2 separate regions of the Homo sapiens genome follow, and region 2 is linked to region 1. A link means that fine-mapping ties the variant in region 1 to the expression of a gene that starts in the linked region. Tissue or cell type: whole blood. Region 1 holds a variant in brackets; the other region holds the start of a gene. All regions are shown on one strand. Distances are between the middles of the regions.

Region 1 (8,105 bases):
TGCCCAGGCTGGTCTTGAACTCCTGGGCTCAAGTGATCCACCCACCTCAGCCTCCCAAAGTGCTGGGATTGCAGGTGTCAGCCACCACACCCAGTCTTATTATTATTTTTAGAGATGGGGTCTTGCTATGTTGTCCAGGCTGGACTGGAACTCCTAGGCTCAAGTGGTCCTCCCACCTCAGCCTCCCAAGTAGCTGGGACTATAGGCACACACCACTGCATCCTGCTAGACTTAATTGATTTGCTGAAGGGGTTGGGGAAAAAAACAGACTAGTCTTAAATAAAAGTTAGCAGGGACTCCTGATGTGGCAGTATAGGATAATGGTTAGAATATGGGATTTGGAGCTGAAACCAGGTTATCTCACTATATAACTATGTGGCCTTTCACCAATTACTTCTCTAAGCTGCAGTTTCTATGGCTGTAAAATAAGGATACAGACAATACTGGCCGGGCGCAGTGGCTTATGACTGTAATCCCAGCACTTTGGGAGGCCAAGATGGGCGGATCACGAGGTCAGGAGATCGAGACCATCCTGACTAACACAGTAAAACCCCATCTCTACTAAGAATATTTTAAAAATTAGCCAGGCGTGGTGGCATGTGCCTGCAGTCCAAGCTACTCGGGAGGCTGAGGCAGGAGAATTGCTTGAACCCGGGAGGTGGAGGTTGCAGTGAGCCAAGATTGTGTCATTGCACTCCAGCCTGGGCAACAGAGCGTGACTTCATCTCAAAAAAAAAAAAAAAAGACAATACCTACTTTTAAGAGCTGAGGTATGAATTAAATGAGATAATATACATAAAGCATGAAGGAAAAAAAAGTACCCAATACATGAGAGTTATGAATATGATGATTATTACGTTTTACTACAGGCAACCCTTCTTATCTTCAAAGCTGTACATATATAGAATTCTGGAAAATTAATCATTTCTATATACCAGAAAAGTCTTAAAGGAGTACTGCAAAAACTCTGTTGTTTTTTTTTTTTGTTTTGTTTTTGTTTTTTGAGATAGAGTGTTGCTCTGTTGCCCAGGCTGGAGTGCAGTGGTGCGATCTTGGCTCACTGCAACCTCTGCCTCCTCCAGGAGAAGCGATTCTCCTGCCTCAGCCTCCCGAGTAGCTGGGATTATAGGCACCTGCCGCCATGCCTGGATAATTTTTTGTATTTTCAGTTGAAACAGGGTTTCATCATGTTGTCAAGGCTAGTTTTGAACTCCTGACCTCAAGGGATCCACCTGCTTTGGTGTCCCAAAGTGGCCTCCCAAAGGATTACGGGCATGAGCCACTGCGCCCAGCCTGCAAAAACTCTTTGAAACAAAGGTCTGCCAAACAATTTGTCTTTGAATTACTGTTTATGGTATGCCTGCTGGTTGTTCAAGGAGTCCCCAGTGTCCCAAGGAATTTAATTTAAAATTACCTGAAATGGTTTCTGCATAAATATGTTCCTTATAGCATTTTTTTTTTTTTTTTTTTTTTAGAGTCAGGGTCTCGCTCTACTGCAAAGGCTGGAGTGCAGTGGTGCAATTATGGCTCACTACATCCTCAAACTCCTGGGCCCAAGCGGTCCTCCAGCCTCCTGAGCCGATGGGATTATAGGCATGAGTCAGCATACCTGGCTTGTTCATTACAGTATTGTTTATAATAGACAAAAATTGGAAATAGCCTAAGTGTCCATGAGCAGGTTTAATTATTAGTATAGCCATGAGGAAATATTACACACTTTTTAAAAAATTTATTTATTTTTTTGAGACAGAGCCTTGCTCTGTCACCCAGGCTAGAGTGCAGTGGCGTGATCTTAGCTCACTGCTACCTCCACCTCCCAGGTTCAAGGGATTCTCCTGCCTCAGCCTCCCTAGTAGCTGGGATTGCAGCAGAGGGTGGCAGGCAGGCACCTGCCACCACGTCCAGCTAATTTTTTGTATTTTTAGTAGAGACAGGGTTTCACCATGTTGCCCAGGATTACCTGACCTCAGGTAATCCACCCACCTCTGCCTCCTGGGTTCAAGCAATTCTGCTGCCTCAGCCTCCTGAGTAGCTGGGATTATAGGCGCCCGCCACCATTCCTGGCTGATTTTTGTATTTTTAGTAGAGACAGGGTTTCACCATCTTGGCCAGGCTGGTCTCGAACTCCTGACCTCATGATCCACCCGCCTCTGCCTCCCAAAGTGCTGGGATTACAGGCGTGAGCCACCGCGCCTGGCCTAAGCACTTATTAAAAATGATGGTGAAGGCCGGGTGGTGTGGCTCAATGCCTGTAATCCCAGCACTTTGAGGGACCAAAGCTGAAGGATCACTTGAGGCTAGGAGTTTGAGACCAGCCTTGGCAATGCAGTGAGACCCTGACTCTAATATTTATATAATAATCATCATTTCAAAATGCTGGTGAAGACTTTCTGATTGCATGGAACAATGCTTAAGTGAAAAATATAGGATGCAAATGTAACATATAGAATTATCTCTGTCCTTTTTTTTTTTTTTTTTTTTTTTTGATACAGAGTCTTGCTCCCTCACCCAGGCTGGAGTGCAGTGGCAAGATCTCGGCTCATTGCAACCTCCGCCTCCGGGGTTCAAGTGATTCTCATGCCTCAGCCTCCCAAGTAGCTGGGATTACAGGTGTGCGTCACCACGCCCAGTTAATTTTTTGTATTTTTAGTAGCAACGAGGTTTCACTATGTTGGTCAGGCTGCTCTTGAACTCCTGACCTCAAGTAATCTGCCCTCCTCAGCCTCCCAAAGTCCTGGCATTACAGGCGTGAGCCACCACATCTGGTTTGAATTATCTCTGTTCTTAAAAAAAAAAGATTGATAATACACTGAGATGTTAACAGTAATTTAATTTTGGGGTGATAGTACATACACATGTACACACACACACACATATACACATACATATGTTTTTTTTCTTGTTCCTTATAGTTTTATATATTCAAAACCAATATTATTTAAACTTTTAAAACTGCTTTAAAAGAATCACAAAGCCCATTCTTTCTGGAAAGAGAAAAGTCACACTGTGATGTGTCTTTTTTTTTTTTTTTCCCAAATACTCTGGCTTGGGAATGTGCTATCTCTTAATTTTCCCAATTTTACTTTGCAAGGTAAAAATTTTGGCTGAGTGTGGTGGCAGAGGTGGGCAGGCAGAGGCAGGCAGATTGCTTGAGCTCATGAGTTTGAGACCAGCCTGGGCAACATGGCAAAACTGCATCTCTACAATAAAAATACAAAAATCTGGCCGGGTGCAGTGGCTCAAGCCTGTAATCCCAGCACTTTGGGAGGCTGAAGTGGGCAGATTACCTGAGGTCAGGCTTCAAGACCAGCCTGGCCAACATGGTGAAACCCTGTCTCTACTAAAAACGCAAAAAATTAGATGGACATGTTGGTGCATGCTGGTAATCCCAGCTAGTTGGGAGGCCGAGGCAGGAGAATCGCTTGAACCCGGGAGGCGGAGGTTGCAGTGAGCCGAGATCGGGCAACTGCACTCCAGCCTGGGCAACAGAGCGAGACTCCATCTCAAAAAAAAAAAAAGAAAAAGAAAAAAAATCACCCAGGCATGTACCTGAGGCGGGGAAAGGAAAGGCTGAAGGGGAATCTTTTACTTCTGTTTGTTTTTTGTCTTTCTTATTCTTTCTTTTACTTTTTTACTTTATAAATTGTATGGTTTAAACTTTTTAACTTGATCATTATACCTTTTTATTTTTTTATTTAGTTTTTGAGAGAGTCTCGCTCTGTTGCCAAGGCTGGAGTGCAATGGCACGATCTTGGTTCATTGCCACCTCCGCCTCCCGGGTTCAAGTGATTCTCCTGCCTCAGCCTCCCGAGTAGCTGGGATTACAGGCACCCACCGCTGCACCCGGCCAATTTTTGTATTTTTAGTAGAGATGGGGTTTTGCCATGATGGCCAGGCTGGTTTCAAACTCCTGACCTCAGGTGATCCTCCCACCTGGGCGTCACAAAGTGCTGGGATCACAGACGTGAGCCACCGTTCCCGGCCTACCTTTTTAGTTTTATTTATTTATTTATTTATTTATTTATTTATTTATTTATTTGAGATGGAGTATTGCTCTGTTGCCCAGGCTGAGTGCAGTGGCCCAATCTTGGCTCACTGAAACTTCCTCCTCCTGGGTTTAAGCGATTCTCCTGCCTCAGCCTCCTGAGTAACTGGGATTACAGGTGCATACCATCATGCCCGGATAATTTTTGTGTTTTTAGTAGAGAAAAGGTATGTTGGCCAGGCTGTTCTCGAACTCCTGACCTTAAGCGGTCCACCTGCCTCAGCCTTCCAAAGCTCTGGGATTACAGGTGTGAGCCACCATGCCAGGCCTCACTATCCCTTTTTAAATGCCAATTTTGCTGTGGGAAAAAGATATCAGCTAAGAGATATAACAAAGAAGTCTAGAAGTGAGACACTTAGTCAGGCTTTCCTTTTCTAACTTCTGCTTCCTATATTAGGTAATGTGTAAACTGGGATGGCCCTGACCAGCCCCAAGGTGCCCACCAGTCCATACTTGCGTCAAACACATGCAGCTTCGTGTCCTGCACGGGCTGGGCACCTCTCTCTCCGCCCCCAAAGACATATAGCTGGTTTCCAATGGCTGCCGATGATGTGTGGAATGTTCTTGGGGATGGTGGGGG[GC/C]TGGTCACTTCTGGCGTGGTCCACGTCCTGGTTTCTGGGCCAGAGAGAATGCAGGCACTTAAAATATCCAGGTAGAGGGGCTTCTGACCTTGACTCTGGGGCTGAGTGAAGTCAGTTTCCAAACTCCAATCCCCAGGGGGGCCAGCATAGTTTTGGGCAGGGATCTCATACTCACAAACATCAAGGAAGAATGAAGATGATACTTAGGATTTGCCAAGACAGTCCAAAATCCCCAAGATTTAAAAGCTGTAAGCACAAGAATGGAGTCAGGCTGGGTGCAGTGTGGCTCATGCCTGTAATCCCAGCACTTTGGGAGGCCAAGGCGGGCGGATCACTTGAGGTCAGGAGTTCGAAACCAGCCTGGCCAACATGGGGTAAAACCCCATCTCTACTAAAAATCTGAAAAATTAGCCGGGTATGGTGGTGGGGACCTGTAATCCCAGCTCCTCAGGAGGTTGAGGCAGGAGAATCGCTTGAACCCAGGAGGTGAAGGTTGCAGTGAGCTGAGATTGCACCACTGCACTCCAGCCTGGGTGACAGAGCAAGGCTCCATATTAAAAAAAAAGAAGAAAAAAAAGAGGTCAATTTGTTTTGGAGGCCTTCAAATATCCTCTCTGAACCCTCTTCTACTTTGCTCACTATCGCTCCCCCTAACATCTGCTAACATTCATTCCCACTAGATGCCAGAGTCCAGGTGTGCCAGATTTCCCAGAAAATGTGGCCAATAAAAGAAAGTAGGCAGGCCATGTGCAGCAGCTAACACCTGTAACCTCAGCAGTTTGGGAAATCGAGGTAGGAGGATTGCTTGAGCCCAGGAGTTTGTGACCAGACTGGGAAACAAAGCAATATCCTGTCTCTACAAAAAATCAGCCAGGGGTGCAGTGGCTCACGCTTGTAATCCCAGCACTTTGGGAGACCAAGGTGGGTGGATCACTTGAGGGTAGGAGTTCTAGACCAGCCTGGCCAACATGGTGAAATCCCATCTCTACTAAAAATAAATAAATAAATAAATAAAGCCAGGTGTCGTGGTGGGGACCTATAATCCCAGCTACTCAGGAGGCTGAGACAGGAGAATCACTTGAACCAGGAGGCGGAGGATGCAGTGAGCTGAGATCATGCCACTGCACTCCAGCCTGGTTGACAAAGCGAGACTTCATCTTAAAAAATAATAATAATAAAATAAAATAAATTAAAAATTAAAAAAAATTAGGCTGAGCACAGTGGCTGTAAGGCCTGTAACCCTAGCACTTTGGGAAGCCAAGGCAGGAGGATTGCTTGAGCCCAGGAGTTTGAGGCTGCAATGAACTATGATCGTGCCATTGCACTCTAGCCTGGGTAAAAGAGTAAGACCATATCTTGAAAAAAAAAAAAAAGAAAGAAAGAAATGAAAAAAAAAAAAAGACAATACTATTACATTTCAGTAGCAGTAATAACAGTCCCTACTAAACAGTAAATGCTAAACAAATATTAATTTCCGCATTTTACAGGTAAGAGAATTGAAGTAGGGATGGATTAAGTAACTTTTTAAAAGAGACATGGCTAGCCAGGCTCGGTGGCTCATGCCTGTAATCCCAACACTTTAGCAGGCTGGGGCAGGTGGATTGCTTGAGCCCAGGAGTTTGAGACCAGCCTGGGCAACATGGCAAAACCCTGTCTCTACAAAAAAATACAAAAAAAAATTAGTCGGGTGTGGTGGCGTATGCCTATAGTCCCAGCTACCTGAGAAGCTTAGGTGGGAGGATATACTGAGCCTGCAGCGGTTGAGGTTGCAGTGAGTCAAGATCACACCACTGCAACTCCAGCCTGGGTTACAGAATAAGGCAAAGAAAGAGAGAGAGAAAGAGAGAGAGAGAGAGACAGATAAAGTGACATGCCTAAGAAATGGCTGAGTTGGAATTTAAACTCTTTCAGTAACACCAAGATCTTTCTAATTCCCACTCCTCTGACTGGAGAATAAAATTTCACCACCTAGATAGATGTATAGAAGCTTATTTCTTTTAAGGATGAACCTGGGTTTTATAGAAGCAGATGCATTAATTGAGCACCCTCAATGGGCAGCATCATTGCCCTGGGCACTGCCATCCCTGGTGTCTTCACTCAAGCTTGGGAAGTGAGCGGAAGTATCTCTACTTTTAGATGAGGAAACTGAAGCTCTGCACATTTAAATCCTTTCCTGCAGGTTATAGCATATGTGCGTAGCAGAGCAGGAGTTTGAACTCAGTTCTTTTTTTTTTTTTTTTTTTTTTTTTTTGAGACGGAGTCTCGCTGTGGCTCCCAGCCCAGAGTGCAGTGGCGCGATCTCGGCTCACTTTGCAAGCTCCGCCTCCCGGGTTCACGCCATTCTCCTGCTTCAGCCTCCCGAGCAGCTGGGACTACAGGCATCCGCCACCATGCCCGGCTAATTTTTTGTATTTTTTTTTTTTTTAGTAGAGACGGAGTTTCACCGTGTTAGCCAGGATGGTCTCGAGCTCCTGACCTCCTGATCTGCCCGCCTCGGCCTCCCAAAGTGCTGAGATTACAGGCGTGAGCTACCGCGCCGGGCCTGAACTCAGTTCTATCAGAGTCCCACACTTGCTCTACCATAACACACCAAGAAATTCTGTCTTTTGTAAAAGGTCTACATCCAATATATAAAATGCTACAGGAAACATCTGTAATATGTGTGGGACTCAAATGGGGACCTGGAGACTGAAAAAGTCTCAGCCTATATCCAAAGCAAAATGTAGCTGTCTCTATAGTTACAGATGTTGGAGAGCTTTTGGATCTTAGAGGGAGCTAGAAAGGTATACATGTCACCTCCAGGCCCAGAAGACCCTAGGGCTGTATTCCTGCCAACTCAAACACCAGCACAAAGAATCACAAAGGAGTCCTGAGCATTTGAGGGACTTGCCTTGGTAACAAATGCAACTAAGTACATATTTCATATTTCTTGGGCATGATGTCAAATTATATTTTCTAGGAGAGAAAAGGGATATGATAGAAAATCACCCTCTTTAATATAAAAATTAGCTGGGCATGGTGGCATGTGCCTGTAATCCCAGCTACTCGAGAGGCTGAGGCTGGAGAATCATTTGAACCCAAGAGGTGGAGGATGCAGTGAGCTGAGATTGCGCCACTGCACTCCAGCCTTGGCAACACAGTGAGACACTGTCTCAAAAATAAAAATAAATAAATAAATAAATAAAATAAAATCACCCTCTTTGACAGCTTTCCAAATTCTCACTTTATTTTATTTCAATGGATACCATTGTTGAAAATCAAAAGGCCAGGGTTCCAGAACTGATTTCCCTTTGCCAAACCTTAACTACATCAACTACCACAACAATTACTGAGCATTAATTATGTGCCAGATACTGAGTTTATTTAAATCCTTGACAAATTAACAAGGTAGAAACTATTACTATCCAATGTGACAGAAAACAGAGGCAGAGAGAGGTTAAATCACTAGTCCAAGGTCATAGTTAGTGCATAGCAAAACA
Region 2 (8,105 bases), 21 kb after region 1:
CCTGTCTTAGCCTCCCTAGTAGCTGGGACTACAGTTGCACAACACCATGCCAGCTAATTTTTGTATTTTTAGTAGAGATGGGGTTTCACCATATTGGTCAGGCTGGTCTCAAACTCCTGACCTCAGGAGATCCACCCGCCTTGGCCTCCCAAAGTGCTGGGATTACAGGCATGAGCCACCGTGCCCAGCCCAGGAGTCTGATTTTTATCCCAACACCAACAGGGAGGCACAAAAGGGTTTTAAACTAGGAAATGCCATGATTGGCTGTATTCTGGGTACAGAGCAAGACAGATGCATGGAAGCCAGTCTGGAGTCTCTCCTTCAAGGTCCTGTTGAAGAACTGCCACCTCTCTACAACCTTCTGTGGGCCCTGACTCAGAGCAGATCACATTTTATCACCATCACCTGCTTAGTCTGTAGTCCCCAGTACACAGAGACTATTTACAATTCTACCTCCAGCACCCACAGAGCAGCTGCCCCCATCAGGCCAATGTTAGTTGTTGAATAAAGGGTTGTTTGAACAAACAGCCAAGAAACAGTGAAGCCAGTTTAATCCAAATCTAATTTCCTAAAAATCTTAAAAATGAGTCAGAGCTCGGGGGAAGACACAGCATTGGAGCTGAGGATGCCAGATGGTCAGTGCCTTACTCTTTCTGGTAAATGGATTTTAATAAAATTAACATCTGCTCTGTGATAATTACTGCCCCCCTATCTTTCCTCTGAAGACTTTCTCAGACAGTTTGAGTCTAATTACCAGAAACTGCAGACAGTTTCATCTCTACCCCTTTTTGTTGATGATCAAATATGTAAATAAACTACTTATAAATGAAACAAAAACTCATGCTTTTCTGTGTCTGGATCCTTCCTTACAGACCATGTTGCTTTCCTGGGCTTGTCTCCAGGTTCCAAGACTGGCAGTTGCTTCATGGTGTCCTATGCATAAGAAAGAAAGGCACTTTTTAGACACTTATGATTATCATCTTAATCAATTCAACCTCCTTTTTAAACCTTTCCTGTTGAATGTACTAATTTCTAGGCCTGATTGATTTGAATAAGAATCACCAACTTTTCATCTTTATTTTTATTATTTATTTATTTATTTATTTATTTGAGATGGAGTTTAGCTCTCGTTGCCCAGGCTGGAGTGCAATGGCAAGATCTCAGCTCATGGCAACCTCTGCCTCCCAGGTTCAAACGATTCTCCTCCCTCAGCCTCCCGAGTAGCTTGGATTACAGGCATGTGCCACTACGCCCAGCTAATTTTTCTATTTTTAGTAGAGATGGAGTTTCACCATGTTGGTCAGGCTGGTCTCGAACTCCTGACCTCAGCTGATCCACCCGCCTCAGCCTCCCAAAGTGCTGGGATTACAGGTGTGAGCCACCGTGCCTGGCCTATGTATTTATCTTTATTATTATTTTTAGATAGAGTCTCACTCTGTTGCACAGGTTGGAGTGCAGTGGTGCAATCTCCACTCACTGCAACCTTCCCCTCCCAGGTTTAAATGATTCTCCTTTCTCAGCCTCCTGAGTAGCTGAGATTACAGGTGCCCACCCACGCCCAGCTCATTTTTCTAGCTTTTCTAGTAGAGACGGGGTTTTACCACACTGGCCAGGCTGGTCACTAACTCCTGACCTCAGGTGATTTGCCCGCCTCAGCCTCCCAAAGTGCTGGGATTACAGGCATGAGCCACCGTGCCTGGCTTTATTTTTTATTTTTATTTTTTCTGAGATGGAGTCTCACTCTGTCACCCAGGCTGGAGTGCAGTGGCAGGATCTCAGCTCACTGCAACCTCTGCCTCCCGGGTTCAAGCTATTCTCCTGCCTCAGCCTCCAGAGTAAGCTGGGACTACAGGCAAGTGCCACCACACCTGGCTAATTTTTTTTGTATTTTTCGTAGGGATGGGGTTTCACTATGTTCGCCAGGCTGGTCTTGAACTTGGCTCGCCTCGGCCTCCCAAAGTGCTGGGATTACAGGCGTGAGCCACTGAGCCCGGCCATTTATTTATTTTTTAATTAAAAATAGAAACGGGGCTGGGAGCAGTGGCTCACGCCTGTAATCCCAGCACTTTGGGAGGCCGAGGCAGGCGGATCATGAGGTCAGATCGATACCATCCTGGCCAACATGGTGAAACCCTGTCTTTACTAAAAATACAAAAAAAATTAGCTGGGCGTTGTGGCCCACGCCTGTAGTCCCAGCTACTCAGGAGGCTGAGGCGTGAGAATTGCTTGAACCCAAGAGGCGGAGGTTGCAGTGAGCCGAAATTGCGCCACTTGCACTCCAGCCTGGCGACAGAGCAAGACTCCTCCTCAAAAAAAGAAAAAAAAATAGAAATGGAGGTTTCGCTTTGTTGTCCAGGCTGGTCTCGAACTCCTAGCCTCAGGCAATTCTTCCACCTCAGCCTCCTAAAAAGCTGGGATTACAGGTGTGAGCCACTGCTCTCCGCTCAAAGGACAAAATATTTAAAGAAGCTGAGAAATACTGAGCTCTGGGATAAATCTTGGCCTCAACATAGCATAGAAAGTAAGGCCTTCTGCTGTTGAGCTTTTTTCCCGTGAACTCACCTCCACAATCTCTTGCATTATTGGTTTTTTTGCTGTTCTTGTAATATGGCAGGCCTTTTCATAATTTTGCAGCCTGTTCTGCTTCCCCTATTTGGAATGTCGCTTCCCTTCTGGGAAATTTGCAAACTCCTAGTTAACCTTCAAAGCCCAGTTCAAAAGTCCCTTCCCTGGTGAAACCTTCCCTGATTTGCCCTTTTCTCTTCCACCCACATCCAAGTTACTTCCTTCTTCCACCCACTGGGCTCTGAAGGTATTAGCCATCACCATTGCAGGAATCATTTGGAATGTTTATCTATTTAAGGCTTCTAGACTAGATTCTAGATTAAATTCCACTAGACTAAGTTCCTAGAGGGCTGGGCCTGTCAGATCCATTCCGAGAACCTACCAATGGACCTGGCATGGAGTAGAAGTGGGGGAGTGGCTAGTGAATGAAGAAAGAAAATAGATTGAGAGATGAATGGATAAATCTCACCTGCGGCCTAGGCCACTGACAGCTGTCCCCAAAGTCCAGAGCTCAGTTAGGCTGGCTTCACGTGGGCGGGACCTCCCGCAGCAGCCGCCGCTACCAGCCCAGCAAATCTCATCCCCACGTGGCAGTTCTAGGGGATAGGAGACGGGGTCGGGAAAGAACAGGCTGATTCGGTCAAAGTGGCCGGGACGGAGCCAGGGAAGGCCCTTCCCCGTTCTTTGCACCCGGCTTGGGCCCACTCCCCTAAAAGATTCAGACTCCCTGCCCGAGACCGTGATAGACCCGGTATCCGGGGACCCTCGCCCCTACCCTCCAGCCCCGGACTGCAATACCTGCGGCGACTTAGGCCAGTCGCGAGCCGTGACTCCACCCCGGAGGGGCGGGGCTTAGGTCCGGGCCCTCCTCCCAGGACCCGGAAGAGCGTCCGGGCCAACCGCTCCCTCTTCCCTGCTCCGCCCCGAGGGCCCGGCGCTGACTTCCTGGGCTGGCGGTGGAGGGGTCCCCCAGACCGGGAGTGGACGCCAGGCTCTGCATTTCTCGGGAACCAAGTGGGGTGGGCCTTCCCTGGGTCCCTCCCTCCCGGACGGGATAAATAAGCCGGGGCTACTTGGAAACGATTTGCGCAATGCCGGGTTCGGGCGTCCGTTTGGGGAACTCAGATGCCTGCGGCAGCTGATCTACTCTGTAAGGGGCTAACAGGGCTGGGCGCCACCACACTCCAGCTTGGGCAACAGCGCAAAAACTCCCTCTCAAAAAAATAAATAAATAAAAGGGGGGGAGGGTATAACAGTTACATTTCCAGTTACAACGATTGTTTTTTTTTTTTTTTTTTGAGACGGAGTCTCGCTCTGTCGCCCAGGCGGGACTGCGGACTGCAGTGGCGCAATCTCGGCTCACTGCAAGCTCCGCTTCCCGGGTTCACGCCATTCTCCTGCCTCAGCCTCCCGAGTAGCTGGGACTACAGGCGCCCGCCACCGCGCCCGGCTAATTTTTTTTGTATTTTTAGTAGAGACGGGGTTTCACCTTGTTAGCCAGGATGGTCTCGATCTCCTGACCTCATGATCCACCCGCCTCGGCCTCCCAAAGTGCTGGGATTACAGGCGTGAGCCACCGCGCCCGGCCACAACGATTGTTAACAGTTTCTAAAGGGGAGAGTTGAGCATGCAATCCTCCTGCGCAGTCTTCGGGCCAGCTCAAGATTTGGTGCTTTAAACAGCTGATTCATTCCATAATTGCCATTTGTAATTATGGCAGGTGCTATGCTGAGCCAGACACCACCACGCTTTGCCTCCAGGAGCAAGTCTTAACTAGAGAGAGATCAAAGAAAAAGACAACTAGGGACGACTGCCAAGAGTGCAATAAATATAAAGTTCAGCCAGGAGAGTATCTGTTCTGAAGTTACTTTCCTCCAGGCCTCAGGGTTGTCTGTTTGTAACCATGGAGCTAATAAGATTTCTATCATAGGCTGGGCGCGGTGGCTCACGCCTATAAGTCCAGCACTTTGGGAGGCCGAGGCGGGCGGATCACGAGGTCAGGAGTTCGAGACCAGCCTGGCCTACATGGTGAACGCCCCCGCCCCCCCCCCCAACTAAAAACACAAAAATTAGCTAGGCGTGGTGGTGGGCGCCTGTAATCCCTGCTACTCAGGAGGCTGAGGCAGGAAAATTGCTTGAATCTGGGAGGCGGAGGTTGCAGTGAGCCGAGATAGTGCCACTGCACTCCAGCCTGGGTGACAGAGCCAGACTCCGTCTCAAGAAAAAAAAAAAAAAAAGAGAGATGTATGTAGTAGTTGTGGTGGGGAATACATGACATAATGTAAATAAAAGTGCTCAGCACCCAGCAGCTGGCACAGAGTTCTCTGTCAAGGGTAAAGCTATTCCTGACTATAAATGAACAATGTCTCTAGACATATTCAGAATCTACATTATCTTTGTTTTAGTTCATAACCATAGGTTCTCTGTGTCTTTCCTGAAAATAGAGAGGTGGCTTGCTCTCTTATGTCTGTTTCAAAGAACTCCAGTCTCTGAAACTGTCGCTGTGTCCTAGAAAATAGAGAAAACAGCTCAGGTTAGAAACAGGAGCTCCTGGAGTATAGAGCTATGGTAGCTTAGTGGGAAGAGATCAAACATACTTGGGTTAAAATCCAAGCTCCAGGCTGGGTGTGGTGGCTCATGCCTGTAATCCCAGCACTATGGGAGGCCAAGGAGGGCAGATCACGAGGTCAGGAGTTCAAGACCAGCCTGGCCAACATAGTGAAACCCCATCTCTACTAAAAATACAAAAATTAGCCAGGCACGGTGATGCGCACCTATAGTCCCAGCTACTCGGGAGGCTGAGGCAGGAGAATTGCTTGAATCGGGAGGCAGAGGTTGTGGTGAGCCAAGATCATGCCACTGCACTCCAGCTTGGGCAACAGAGCAAGACTCTGTCTAAAAAAAAATCAGCCAGGCGTTTGCCTGTAATCCCAGCTACTCAGGAGGCTGAGGCAGAAGAATCACTTGAACCCAGGAGGTGGAGGTTGCAGTGAGCCGAGATCGTGCCACTGCACTCCAGCCGGGGCAACAGAGCAAGACTCTGTCAAAAAAAAAAAATCCAGGGTCCAGCACTAACCATCTAACTCTGACATTTGGCAAGTTACCCACTCTGAACCCTAGTTCCTCATCTATAGAATGATGATAGTATTACCTGCTGTGCAGACAGAACTGTTCAGAGGATGTGCTAATACAGGTGAAAGGCCAGGTTGGTGAAAGGAATATTTTAGCTACTTGAAACCATAACCAAAATTTATTGACAAAATGGAATTCAAGGTCTGCGGCTCTTTCAAACATATGGAGTCTTTGTGAGTTCCCACTTTAGTGGAAAAATCCCCATTGACTGTCTGCCAAAGAGAAGTTTAGGGATATTCAGTCATTCTGCTCTCCTTCAGGAAAGAAAACCAAGTCCAGGTTAGCTCTGCCATATGTCCATGTGCATCTCCACGTACATTTCTGCTCACAGCTGCAGAATGCTCTGATGTCCCCGGTGTTTTCTGGCTAGCTCTGTTTCAAGGTGCCATGCTGGAGTGGCACATCAACAAGAAAAATTGGAAGAGGTTTGTGGGCAAAATAGCAGCCAGTTTTCACTGCGGGACCTATTTATTTATTTATTTACAGACGGAGTCTCGATTTGTCGCCCAGGATGGAATGCAGTGGCGCCCTCAGTTCACTGCAACCTCCGCCTCCTGGGTTCAAGCAATTGTCCTGCCTCAGCCTCCCAAGTAGCTGGGATTATAGGCGTGGCCACCACGTATGGTTAATTTTTGTACTTTTAGTAGAGACGGCATTTCACCATGTTGGCCAGGCTGGTCTTGAACTCCTAGCCTCAGATGATCCACCTGCCTTGGCCACCCAAAGTGCTGGCATTACAGGCATGAGCCACCGTGCCTGCTGAACCTATGCTTTTAGACTAGAAATCACATTTGAGAATGTGGAATGCCTGAGATCTATTTTCTTTTTTTTTTTTTGAGACAGTCTTGCTCTGTCGCCCAAGCTGGGGGAGTGCAGTGGCATGATCTCGGCTCACTGCAACATCCGCCTCCCGGGTTCAAGCAATTCTCTGCATCATCCTCCCAAGTAGCTGGGATTACAGGTACCCGCCACCACACCCAGCTAATTTTTTTTTTGCATTTTTAGTAGAGACGGGGTTTCACCATCTTGGCCAGGCTGGTCTTGAACTCCTGACCTCGTGATCCACCCACCTCGGTCTCCCAAAGTTCTGGGATTACAGGCGTGAGCCACTGCGCCAGGCTGCCTGAGATGTATTTTCTATTTCTATTTTTATTTATTTACTTATTTTGAGATGGAATCTTGTTCTGTCGCCCAGCCTGGAGTGCAGTGTCATGATCTCAGGTTACTGCAACCTCCGCCTCCCAGGTTCAAGCAATTCTCTTGCCTCAGCCTCCTGAGTACCTGGGACTACAGGTGCGCACCACCATGCCTGGCTAATTTTTGTATTTTTCGTAGAGACAGGGTTTCACCATGTTGGCCAGGTTGGTCTTGAATTCCTGACCTCAAATGATTCACCCACCTCTGCCTCCAAAAGTGCTGGGATTACAGGTGTGAGCCACTGTGCCTGGCAAGAGATGTATTTTTAAAAATGGAAATCAAGGCCCAGAGAAGTTAAAATAACTACCCCACATAAAATGGCAGAACCAGGAACCCAGGAACCCAGATCTCTTATTTCTTGCAAGGAAGACTAAGAATGCATTCCAGTCATCAAGCTCTGTTACCCCATCTCCATACCAAACCACTGGAAGTGTCTAACACCTCTCCTAAAAGCTTGCCCAACACTCTGACGCACGCTTTCTTCTTTTCTCTCTGCTGTGGATGTGAAGAATGATGTTCACTCAATGAGGTGGGTCTGCAGGAGGGAGCTTCCTCCTGTCAGATAGTGTGGTCATGTGAGGACTGCCACCTATTTTCACTGGAACAGCACACCACTGACCTCTTTACTGATGCATCAGCAAGGGAAGTAATGAATGCCGGTGAGACCTTCCTTTTAAGCACTTTACAGTTTATGAAGAACATTCACATCCATCTCCCTATTTGTCTTCCTTCCCACTTCTGAGAAGGTATCTTGAATAGGATTTATTCCCAATTACTGAGGTTCAGAGATTAAGAGTGAATTGTGGCTGGGCGCAGTGGCTCATGCCTGTAATCCCAACACTTTGGGAGGCCGAGGTGGGCCAATCAACTGAGGTCAGGAGTTTGAGACCAGACTGACCAACATGGTGAAACCCCGTCTCTACTAAAAATACAAAAATTACCCAGGTGTGGAGATGCATGCCTGTAATCCCAGCTACTTGGAAGGCTGAGGTGGGAGGACTGCTTGAGCCTAGGAGGCAGAGGTTGCAGTGAGCCGAGATTGTGCCACTGCACTCCAGCCTAGGTGACAGAAAAAAAAAAAAAGGCGACAGCCTGTCTCAAAAAAAAAAAAAAAAAAAAGAAAGAAAGAAAGAAAGAAAAACAGCCAGTTTTCTATGCTACCCACAGAGGGGTCCATATGGGGTTGTTATGGATTCCCATCATAACTTAAA

The links. PIP is the estimated chance that this variant, and not a neighbour inherited with it, causes the effect.
Region 2: it holds the start of RABEPK, and the variant in region 1 is fine-mapped to the expression of RABEPK in whole blood (TOPMed, PIP above 0.99).

What each region holds. Positions count from the first base shown.
Region 1 is chr9:125,217,094-125,225,198 of GRCh38, reverse strand. RABEPK (Rab9 effector protein with kelch motifs) reads right to left here. Exons shown (of 8, transcript NM_005833.4): 5 at 4,499-4,660. Among named protein-coding and RNA genes, the nearest start is that of HSPA5, 20 kb to the left of the region's middle. The variant GC/C (reference allele first, on the strand shown) is at 4,626.
Region 2 is chr9:125,195,836-125,203,940 of GRCh38, reverse strand. RABEPK (Rab9 effector protein with kelch motifs) reads right to left here and starts at 3,399. Exons shown (of 8, transcript NM_005833.4): 1 at 3,035-3,399; 2 at 875-933. The coding sequence starts at 927. It overlaps LOC105376271 (a long non-coding RNA gene), which reads left to right and starts at 3,545. Exons shown (of 2, transcript NR_135145.1): 1 at 3,545-3,715; 2 at 4,286-4,408. It also overlaps the pseudogene RPSAP76. RefSeq lists a silencer at 3,472-3,521.